2 separate regions of the Homo sapiens genome follow, and region 1 is linked to region 2. Evidence: fine-mapped expression QTL. A gene starts in region 2. The other region holds a variant in brackets. All regions are shown on one strand. Distances are from middle to middle.

Region 1 (5,000 bases), 90 kb after region 2:
TCAGTAACTAATGGAAGTACTAGACAGAAAATCAGAAAGGGCATAAAAATACAATATAACCAACCAACAGGATCTAATTTAATACATAGAGCACTACACCCAACAACAGCAGAATATACTTTCTTTTATCAAGACTAAATATATACTGAGCCATAAAAGAAACTTTAAAAATTTTTTCAGAACTTAAATCATGCAGAATTTGTTCTCAAACCACAATGGAATCAAACCAGAAATCAAGAAATTAAATACAACGGGCAAATCTCCAAATGCTTGGAAATTAAATACTATACCTCTATATAATCCATGGGTCAAAGAGTAAATCTCAAAGGATATTCATAATACATAGAATGAAAAAAAATGAAATACAGCATATCAAGATATATGTGATGTGGCTAAAGCAATACTGACAGGACATTTTTTAAAATCAAATGAATACATTAGAAAAAAAGGAGAATTATCAAATCAAAAATCTAAGTTACTGCTTCAAGAAACTAGAAGAAGTAGAGCAAAACAAATTCAATACAAGCAGAACAAAGAAAATATTTAAATATAAGAGCCAAAATTAATGAAGTTGAAATCAAGAAAACAATAGAAAAAATTAATGAAACATAAAACTGGTTATTTGGAAAATCAATACAATTGATCTTTAATTGACAGAAATAAGAGAGAAGACACAAATCTCAGGAATGAAATTTGGGGCTGTCACTACAGAATCTGCAGTCATTAGAAGGATAATAAGAAAAACTATGAACAATTTTATGCTCACAAATCTGATAACTTAGAGGAAATGGACCAATTCTTCAGAAACCACAAACTACCAAAACATAATGAAGATGAAATAGACAATCCAAACACTCATATAATCACTAAATACATTGAATTCATCATACACAAGCTCCCAAAAAGGGACCTTCAAGCCTGCTGGTTACACTGAATCATTCTATCAAATATTTACAGAAGCATTAACAACAATTGTACAGTCTCTTCTAGAAAATAGAAGAGGAAGGAACATTTTCCAGTTGATTTTAGGAGGCCAGTATTACTGTGATGCTAAAACCAAATAAAGATATTACTAAAAAAGACAACTACAAAAATATCTCCCATTAACTTAGATATTAAAATGCTCTATAAAATATTAACAAATCAAATTCAGCAATGTATAAAAAGAATTATACACCATGACCGAGTGAGATTTATTTCAGGTACACAAGTCTTGCTCAATTATTTGAAAGTCAAGCAATGTAATCTACCCTATCAACAGGCTAAAGAAGAAAATCATATGTAGAAAAGGTATCTGATAAAATGCAACACCTCTCATGGCCTGTGTCCCTCCCTATGCCTCCTGGATTTATATGTTGAAGTACTAATTGCCAGTATATCAAAATGTGACTGTATTTTGAGATAGGGTCAGTTAAAATGAGGTCATGAGGGCAGGTCCTACTGCAATATGACTGGTATCTTTAGAAAAACAGATAAGGGTATAGATACACAGAGATAGAAAACCATGTGAAGACACTGGGAGAAAATGGCCACCTATAAGCCAAGGAGGGAGGACTCCAAAGAAACCAACACTGCTGGTACCCTGATTTCAGACCTCTAGCCTCCTGAATTGTGAGAAAATAAAGTTCTATTATTTAAGTCACCAAGTCTGTGGTACTTTTTATAGCAGCCCTAGCAGACTGATATAAACACCTATTGAAGATAAAATTTCTTAGAAAGTAGGTGTGGAGAACTGCCTCAACTTGGTACAAAACATGTTCAAAAAGTCTAGAGCTACCATACTTAATGGTGAGTACAAGACTGAATGTTTTTCTGCTAGGACTGGAAACTAAGCAGGGATATCTTCTCTCACCACTTTTACTCAACATAATTGTCTGAGTTTTCTGTTGCTTATAACAGAGTACTTGAAATGCATAATTTATAAAGAAAGGAATTTATGTCTTATGGTTATGAGACTGAAAAGTTCAAGGTTGAGGAGCCACATCTGGTGAGGGCCTTCCTGCTGGTGGGGGCTCTCTGGAGTCCAGAGGTGACAAAAAGCATCACATGGCGAGGGGCTGAATGTACTCATGTGCTAGCTCAGGTCTCTCTTCCTCTTCTTATAAAACTACCGGTTCCCTTTCCGTAATAACACATTGATACTCTAATCCATTCATGAGGGCAGAGCCATTGTGATCCAATTACCTCTTAAAGCCCCACCTCTCAATACTGCCACATTGGGGATTAAGTTTCAA[T/C]CTGAATTTTGGAGGGGACATTCAAACCACAGCAATAATATTGGAAGTTTAGCCAAATTATGAAGCAGGAGAGAAAAAATGTATGAGAAAAAAATAAATAAAAGGCACACAGATTGGAAAGGAAAATTATACATCACCCCAAGTTTTTTGGAGAGAAAGTAGTAAAAATGGGTATATTTTGTTTAGAAAGTAATGCAAATTAAAACCACAATGACATATTATTACATGCAGCTATAAGCGTATACAGAATAAAAAATAGTGATGATGCTAAGTAAATATAAATGAACAAGGGTGATAATGCTGGCAAGGATGTGGAGAAACTGGATCATTCATACATTGCTGGTGATGATGTAAAATGATACAGGCACTGTATAAAATAGTTTGGCAGCATCCTATGAAACAAAACATGCATTTGCCTTACAATCCAACAATTGTGCTCTTAGACATTCATCCTTGATAAATGAAAACTACGTGCACACAAAAATATGTACATGAATGTTCACAGAGATTTTTTCATGACTGCCAAAAACTGGAAACAGATGTGCTTCAGTTGGTAAAATCTGTGATATATCATGTCAGGGAATACTACAGAGCAATAAAAAGGAACAAACTAGTGATACCCACAAGTTAGGTGGATCTCCAGGGTATTATGATGAGTGAAAAAAGCCAGTCTTCATAAAGAAACTGTGGTACATTTATAAAATAGAATATTATCCAGTGATAAAAAGAAATAAGCTATCAAGCCATGAAAAGAAATGGAGAAACCTTCAAAGTCATATTGTTGAGTGAAAGATGGGGACGCCAATCTGAAAAGGCTTCACACTGTATGATCCCAACTATGACATTTTGAAAAAGGCAAAGCTATGGAGACAATAAAAAGATCAGTGGTTGCTAGGGGTTTGGAGGGAAGGAGAAATGGCTAGGCAGAGCACAGGCTACTTTTAAAGCAGTGAAAATATTAATATATGATGATGGGTGGCATTATACATTTGTCAAAACCTGTAAAACATACAACACAAATAATGAGCCCTAATATTCTGTACACTTAAGATCATAATAGTGATTCACCAACTATAACAAACACACCACACTAATGCAAGATATTAACAATAGGGAAACTGGGGTGGAGAACAAAGGGGTGTATAAGTCTCTGTACTTTCTGCTAGTTTTTCTGTAAACCTAAATGGCTCATAAAAATGTCTATCAATTCTTTTAAAAGCTAATTTCAGAAGGTTACATATGATATGAGTCCGTTTACATAATATTCTTGAAATGACAAAATTATAGGCATGGAGAGCAGAGAAGTGGTTGCCAGAATTTAGAGAGATTGGGTGATGATGAGGTATGTATGGGGAGAAAGGTGACTTTGGTTATGAAAGAATAGCAGCAGAATCCTTGTGGTGATGAAACTATTTTGTGTCTTAACTGTGGTGGTGGTGATGTGAATCTATGCAAATGATAAAATTGCATAAAACTTCACACATATGCAAGCACACACACTGTGGCACATAAAACTTGTGAAATCTGAACAAGGTGAGTGCATTGTATTAATGTCAATTTTCTGATTGTAATACTGTACTGTGGTTATGGAAGACATTACCACTGGGAGAAGCTTGTTGAAGGGTACACAGGATCTCTCTGTATTTACTCTTACAGTTTCATATGAATTTTAAATTATCTCAAAATAAAAAAAGAATTAAAAACAATTTAATGTTTTCAGTAGGTTGTTCTCATAATATTTAAAGCAGGGCATAGTTTTTAATATTGTCTAATTTTGTTTCCTTTCAGTCTATGCATATTGATGCTACTTTATATACGGAAAGTGATGTTCACGTGAGTATACTTTTTTTCAAAATTGCTATTTGTCTTGTTATTAAAGTTTTTAAAAGTATATTTTTGTAACAACTAAAATATGGTAGTTTTAAAATCTAACTTTTGGTGTGTTTCTATAATATATGGTCAATGAGTTTTATTAGTGATTATTGAGATGGGACTTGGGGACAGATAGCTACATCAATGCTATTTTTGTAATGGTGCCAAATCAAAATATTAAAAGAGTCTTTTCCATCAATGTCAAACAAGATACATTATACGTTTTTGTGATGCAGTTGCATCATGGTGCAATTAGATGCAAAAATCAGATTAACTGTTTCAATTTAAGAGTAGCCAATATATCAGTTATTTCCAATGCTGTAATGTATCACCATCTGCAATCATATTTTCCATAAATTGCTTAAAATCATTCATGTTCTGCATTTTACATGATTCTCTACATTTGTCAGAAAAAGATTCTAATTATTCTCTATGTGAGAAAGGAAACATAACCCATGAAACTTATTAGAACTGAAAAATGGTCTTGAACTTGTTTCATTAATACCCTGACATTTCCTAAGGAATGTAGGATTTGTCATGTTGGTGGTGGTTCTTCCCTTCAGTATTGTTACTAAAACCAAGAAATGAATCCCCAACTTCACGTCAGGGAAAACAAACTCTATGTCCTCTCTCCATTATTCCTCAATTAGAACTTCTCTTACATAGATGACTTTCTAAGCATTGGAAAGAAACCATAGTCAGAAACTAGAAAAAAGAGATATTCACTAACCAATTGGGTCATGCTGCTGCACAAAGAAATTGTCTCCCTCCTCTGGCTTCAGCATGGATTCTGTTTTTCTTTGCATTTTTTGTAAAATGGAAAGTAGTCAATTAGCCACCAAATTCAGCATCCTGAAATTGCTTTTTTGCAAGAAGATAACTTTGCAACCCATG
Region 2 (5,542 bases):
GGAATGTGTATTCAAGCCAGACTGTCTGAGTTCAAATCCTTGCTGGGTCAGTCAATTTCCATGTGATCTTAGGCAAGCTGTATAATTCTTTGGGCCTTGGTTTTCCCATTTGTAAAATGGAGATAATAATAGTTTATATCTCATAGCTTTGCTGTGAGGATTTAATAAGTTAACATTTGTGTTTAGCACAGCACTGGAGAAATAGCAGATTGGAGGAACTACAGAAGTCCTAACTAATACTGTTGTGGTTCTGAAAAAGCAGCAACTTGAGGAGCTCTTGAAAACCTAAATAGTATTTAAGGCCAAGAGTATCTGTCTATTGTCAGGATCACCAGAAAAAAATGTGAGAAGCAACTTCGAGGTAATGCTGCATTTCAGCATGCTTTACCCCGAATGGAAATGTAGAGAACCCAGGCAGGCCATGTTTTCCAAAGAGCAGGGGATCAACTTGTTCTTGATGGGAGGTTTAAATCTTAGTAAAACCATAAATAAGGCCACAGTCATGGACTTTGAACACTAAATCAGATGAAATAACTTGTAACTTCTTCCATGTAATCACAAAAGCTAGAAAATAAATTATTAGTAATTTATTTTAAAGATGATTGCCCAATTGACATTGTTTTTGAAAAAAGATATTAAAAATTTATTAAACTATAATTTTATTGTTAATTATTTGAATTCAGGAAGATTATTATGGTCACTTCTATGAGATTTAGTTAATCTCCACTTCTTTCTACCCTGTAATTTTATTAGTTATCTTAAGACAGTTTCAAATTATTTCATCAATCTTCATCTTTGCTTTTAATTTATGCAGCAGAATTTACTTGTTCATTGGTATGAGTAATTTTCAATATTTTGCCAAACAGCCTGTGGCAACTGAAAACACAAGTTGCATACATTAGACTTTTCTTTTTGAGTGCAATGCAACAAAAACAAATTATGTTGCAAACCCAACTTCATTGAACTGCAGGCACTCATAACTAATTAAAAATACTTTTAAAACATCTGTATTTATGAAAACAAATTTGACCAACATATTTGGGAGGCAAATAGTAGAGCAAAGCATATCTTATGACTATAATAATTTTTAGTTGTACTTTACTGTTATTTATGTTTTTTATCTCCCTACTCTGACAAAATGCTTTATATATCATTTAGTCCATCTTGTTCTAGAACCTACTATAGTTGAAACCCAATAAACAGTTGTAGACCAATTTTCTTACTGTTATATACTCAGATTATGCCTTAAGTTCACCCTACAAGTAAACTTTCCGTCAATTTCATAGTGTTGTGAAAACTCTCTAGTAGCTCAGAACGTTCTTGGTGGTCTCAATATATTAAAAGTATGCAGTCAGATACTGATGGCCCTGAGTCCTGCAGACAGCTAACAAAGCTGAAGCCCACAGGCTAGTGAGCACCAGCTGAGAGCACTTTCTATAGAGTTTGTGGGCAGTCCAAGAGAGACAGGATCTGAGATGTGATGATATGTCCTCTGGCAGCAGCAATATCTGATATTGAGCTCTGCTAGGTGGTGCTGAGCGTGGACACCTGCTTCCTTCACCGGCTGCAGAGAACACAGTATCCATTAAAGGAGCTGAAAGAGGTGCTAGAGGAGTTTACATGGCAGGAGTCCAGGAAGCTCTGCAACAGTCCAAAATGAGGTTGGGACACATGATACACTTGTTCATCCCTATTCTCTATCTTCACACATATGCATATCAGTCCTTCCGTGGCTGCTATATTCTTGTGGTGAGATCCAAACCAGCTGCAGTCTTGCTCTCCCAGTGCATGCTCATTCTGCAAATCAGAGCTTCAATGTATTGCTATGAAAAATTCTGACTGGTCTTGAAATCCATTGACACCATCACAAGAAAATTCAACATGACATCGTCATGAACAGAAATGGATGATGGCTTCATATTCTTAAATATAATTTCCAACTATGGTGAAATTTTGAATGGTTGTAAAAACTGTTTTTGCATTTTTATACCTCACTTATTTTGTTAATGGAGACTATCTAGAGTTTGATGTAATTCTCATCAAAAAGTCCATCAGTAATTATTTCAAATATAAAACTGATATCAAAAAATTGAGTTAATGAAAATAAACTCAAATTTTTCATAAAAATATGAAATTATATTATACGGAACTTTATGTACATGGAAAGTGAATAATTTCTATTATTTTTCTATTTGATATTTATCATATTTATGTAATTAAAAACATAATTAAATTTTAAACTAAATTAAACTGCGCTCCAGGAAGACATCATTTTCTCTGAACCATGACTCTGAAAATTTGGAAAGCACCGTACAAGAGGGATTTTCAGTGATTCACAAGAGTGCAAGATTCTGCAAAGTACTTTCAAAACTAAGCGTGAGATCTTTGCTACTGCCTTTATGGCATGCAAATCACTCAGCCTCAACTCAGTTCCTTCCTCCAATGTAAAAATACTACAAGAACAACATCTCACGCTTCCATCAAATGGGACCATGTGTGATATTTTACACTGGACTACACAATAGGCTGGAAAAGTGATCCGCAGAGAGGCTCATTGCTCTAAGTTCACTCCCTGTACCAACTGTCTTGCACAAAGCTGCCACCCGGGTGTCTTCTTCCAACATTTCCCCTAGTTGGACTTCAAAGTTTCCTTCTTGCAGCCTGTGCGGGGACCAAGAGGCCGGTCTAGAGTAGCCGCCCAGCATCCAGATCCGACATCCTTTTCCCTTTCCTCAGGAAGACTTGGATGCGCGCCAGCCCAGCCCGGGTCTCCAGGTTCAGCTGCGGAAGCTTCCCACATGGTGCCCGTCGCTTGGGATGCGGCTATCCTTGTGCCTTCTCTGCAGGTGTCCCGGCAGGTAGAGGAGGAGACCGGTGGCTGGTGTTCCTGCAGGGCGGGGCTGGGGCTCCTCGATGTCCTTGCGCTTGCCCTGCAAGTTCTGCGCCCCAGGCCCCGGCAGGGACGGAAACAGGCCGGGAAGCAGTGACACCTGGGGCAGTCAGTCATCCAGGAGCCGCCGCCACCCGCCCCACCCCCAGTCTCCGCGGGAGGTGTTTGTCTTCGCCTATGCTCCCGGCTCTTTCTCTTTCACTTTTCTTTTCGCCAGGGGTTGGGACTCCGGGTGGCAGGCGCCCGGGGGAATCCCAGCTGACTCGCTCACTGCCTTCGAAGTCCGGCGCCCCCCGGGAGGGAACTGGGTGGCCGCACCCTCCCGGCTGCGGTGGCTGTCGCCCCCCACCCTGCAGCCAGGACTCGATGGAGGTACAGAGCTCGGCTTCTTTGCCTTGGGAGGGGAGTGGTGGTGGTTGAAAGGGCGATGGAATTTTCCCCGAAAGCCTACGCCCAGGGCCCCTCCCAGCTCCAGCGTTACCCTCCGGTCTATCCTACTGGCCGAGCTGCCCCGCCTTCTCATGGGGAAAACTTAGCCGCAACTTCAATTTTTGGTTTTTCCTTTAATGACACTTCTGAGGCTCTCCTAGCCATCCTCCCGCTTCCGGAGGAGCGCAGATCGCAGGTCCCTTTGCCCCTGGCGTGCGACTCCCTACTGCGCTGCGCTCTTACGGCGTTCCAGGCTGCTGGCTAGCGCAAGGCGGGCCGGGCACCCCGCGCTCCGCTGGGAGGGTGAGGGACGCGCGTCTGGCGGCCCCAGCCAAGCTGCGGGTTTCTGAGAAGACGCTGTCCCGCAGCCCTGAGGGCTGAGTTCTGCACCCAGTCAAGCTCAGGAAGGCCAAGAAAAGGTACCGCAGCTCCCCACTTCCTAACTGCTCCCGTCCCAAACTCATTGTGGGCCGGTGCAGATGTCTGTGCGTGCGCGTCTATCCCTACCTTTGCAAAATCAAATTATCGCCCTCTTCTTTGCTTGCACACGTCTTCTGGGAGAGAAATTTGCAGGAATGGTCAGTGCTTGGCAGTCAGGCCTGGGTCTGTATTGGTTCCAACTCTGCGCCAGCCAGTTATCTCTTAGAGAAGCGATAGTGTATCTAGAATGTCGAAGGAACTTGGAAAAAATACGAGCGAATTTCACTGAAATAAAATCATTATTCAAGGTGGCTTTTAAATGAAAATCCAGCCAATTTTTTCAAGTGTTATTAAGACCGCATGTAGCAAGGGTATATAGTTCATTTGACTTTATGTAATTCCATGCATTAAAAACTATGTTGACTTCAAAGTATGTCTAAACCAAACTAATTCTTAAATGATGCTTACAACAGATTCTTAAATAGGATGAGTCAGCAATTTCAAAACTGGAAGTAAAGTGGTGGTCACCAGCTAGTTTCCATTATATATTTTTAAACTACTATCTAATATTATGATACTGGTGGTGGCCAACTAAGTGGACGTCATCCTTATCTTGTCAGTGTGGTGAAAGAGGCCATATTAGCTAGGCTGAATTTTTGCTCAGGTATTACAGAATAAACTGGTGATTATGCATCCTGCCATGTAGAGGTTATAAGGTGAACCATTCTACTGAAAGCATCAAGATACAATACACTTTTGGAAGGCCGAGGCGAGAGGATAGCTTGAGACCAGGAGTTCCAGTTTATAGTGAGCTATATGATCTGCCACTGCACTCCAGCCTGTCAAAAAATAAATAAATGAATAAAAAAGATATAATACAGGTTAAATTTTTAAACTCCTGTTGTTTTCGTGTGAAGTAATGTGGCCAACAGAGCAAGGAAATACATGGGAAGGAACATAAAGACATATAAAGAGAAGAACTGAAAATACAGCAAAAGCCATTTAGATTTAAAAAGTGAAGAAAAAGCTAGTTTTGCTTAAAGTTAACAAGTATCATAGAGATCTTAAGGTTTGTTATGATTGTCTTAGTTTCGGGTCCTTATTCGTGTAAAATTCTCACAGAATTTTAGTCAATCAGAAAAGTCTCTCCTGCAGTATCATCTGCTTTGCAACAGTGACAGAGAAGGGTCAGTTGACCATTGGTCTGGAACTTCTGATAGGCAGGGTGTTCCCATACTTTTGGTTTCACTGTTCCTTGCTGATTTGGAGTGGCAACTCCAGAACCTGATTGGAAGCTATAGTTCTGGTTGGAATTTTCCTGCAGACTACTGGTGATTAAAATGATGCTCTTTTGTTTTAATCCATGAAATTAATGTAGCCAATGTCAACAGCTATATTGCAAGGCACAATGTTTATAAATTTCCTTGGGGGATGGAGAAAACAGTGGTTTAAGGTTTATCGAAATAGATTTTGGAAGTGGAAGGTTTTAAAGCCTACGGGATACTCCATCTCAGATTTGCTGCCTCTGATGAATTTCAGGACAGCTAGAAGAGCAGCCCTGAAATGCTGGGTACATGTGGATTTTTCTCAGGAAAATATCCGTAACTTTGATCAGCTTTTTAAATGGGTCTCTGACCCAAAAGAGTTTTAAATCTTTTGAAAATATAGACTACTGTCCTTTTCCCCTCATCTCTCCTGGAGTTTAATGTTGAGTTCTGCTCATTGTGTTAACTATTTTTCTGAAGGTTAGCTGATCATAATACAGAGTTCTGTCTTCAGACCTATAACTTAAGTTATGAGAAA

Alleles and levels. Positions count from the first base shown, and alleles are read on the strand shown. Sizes are in standard deviations (SD) of each study's normalised expression.
In carriers of allele C in region 1, the expression in tibial nerve of the gene that starts at base 3,097 in region 2 tends to be lower than with T alone (small effect, 0.26 SD a copy in GTEx).

The links. PIP is the estimated chance that this variant, and not a neighbour inherited with it, causes the effect. A credible set is the group of variants that fine-mapping cannot tell apart.
Region 1: its variant is the best candidate, but not a certain one, in a credible set for the expression of IL15 in tibial nerve (GTEx, PIP 0.51).

Annotation. Positions count from the first base shown.
Region 1 is chr4:141,723,918-141,728,917 of GRCh38, forward strand. It overlaps IL15 (interleukin 15), which reads left to right. Exons shown (of 8, transcript NM_000585.5): 6 at 4,023-4,067. Among named protein-coding and RNA genes, the nearest start is that of IL15, 90 kb to the left of the region's middle. The variant T/C (reference allele first, on the strand shown) is at 2,235.
Region 2 is chr4:141,633,487-141,639,028 of GRCh38, forward strand. IL15 (interleukin 15) reads left to right here and starts at 3,097. Exons shown (of 8, transcript NM_000585.5): 1 at 3,097-3,262. RefSeq lists an enhancer at 3,010-3,099.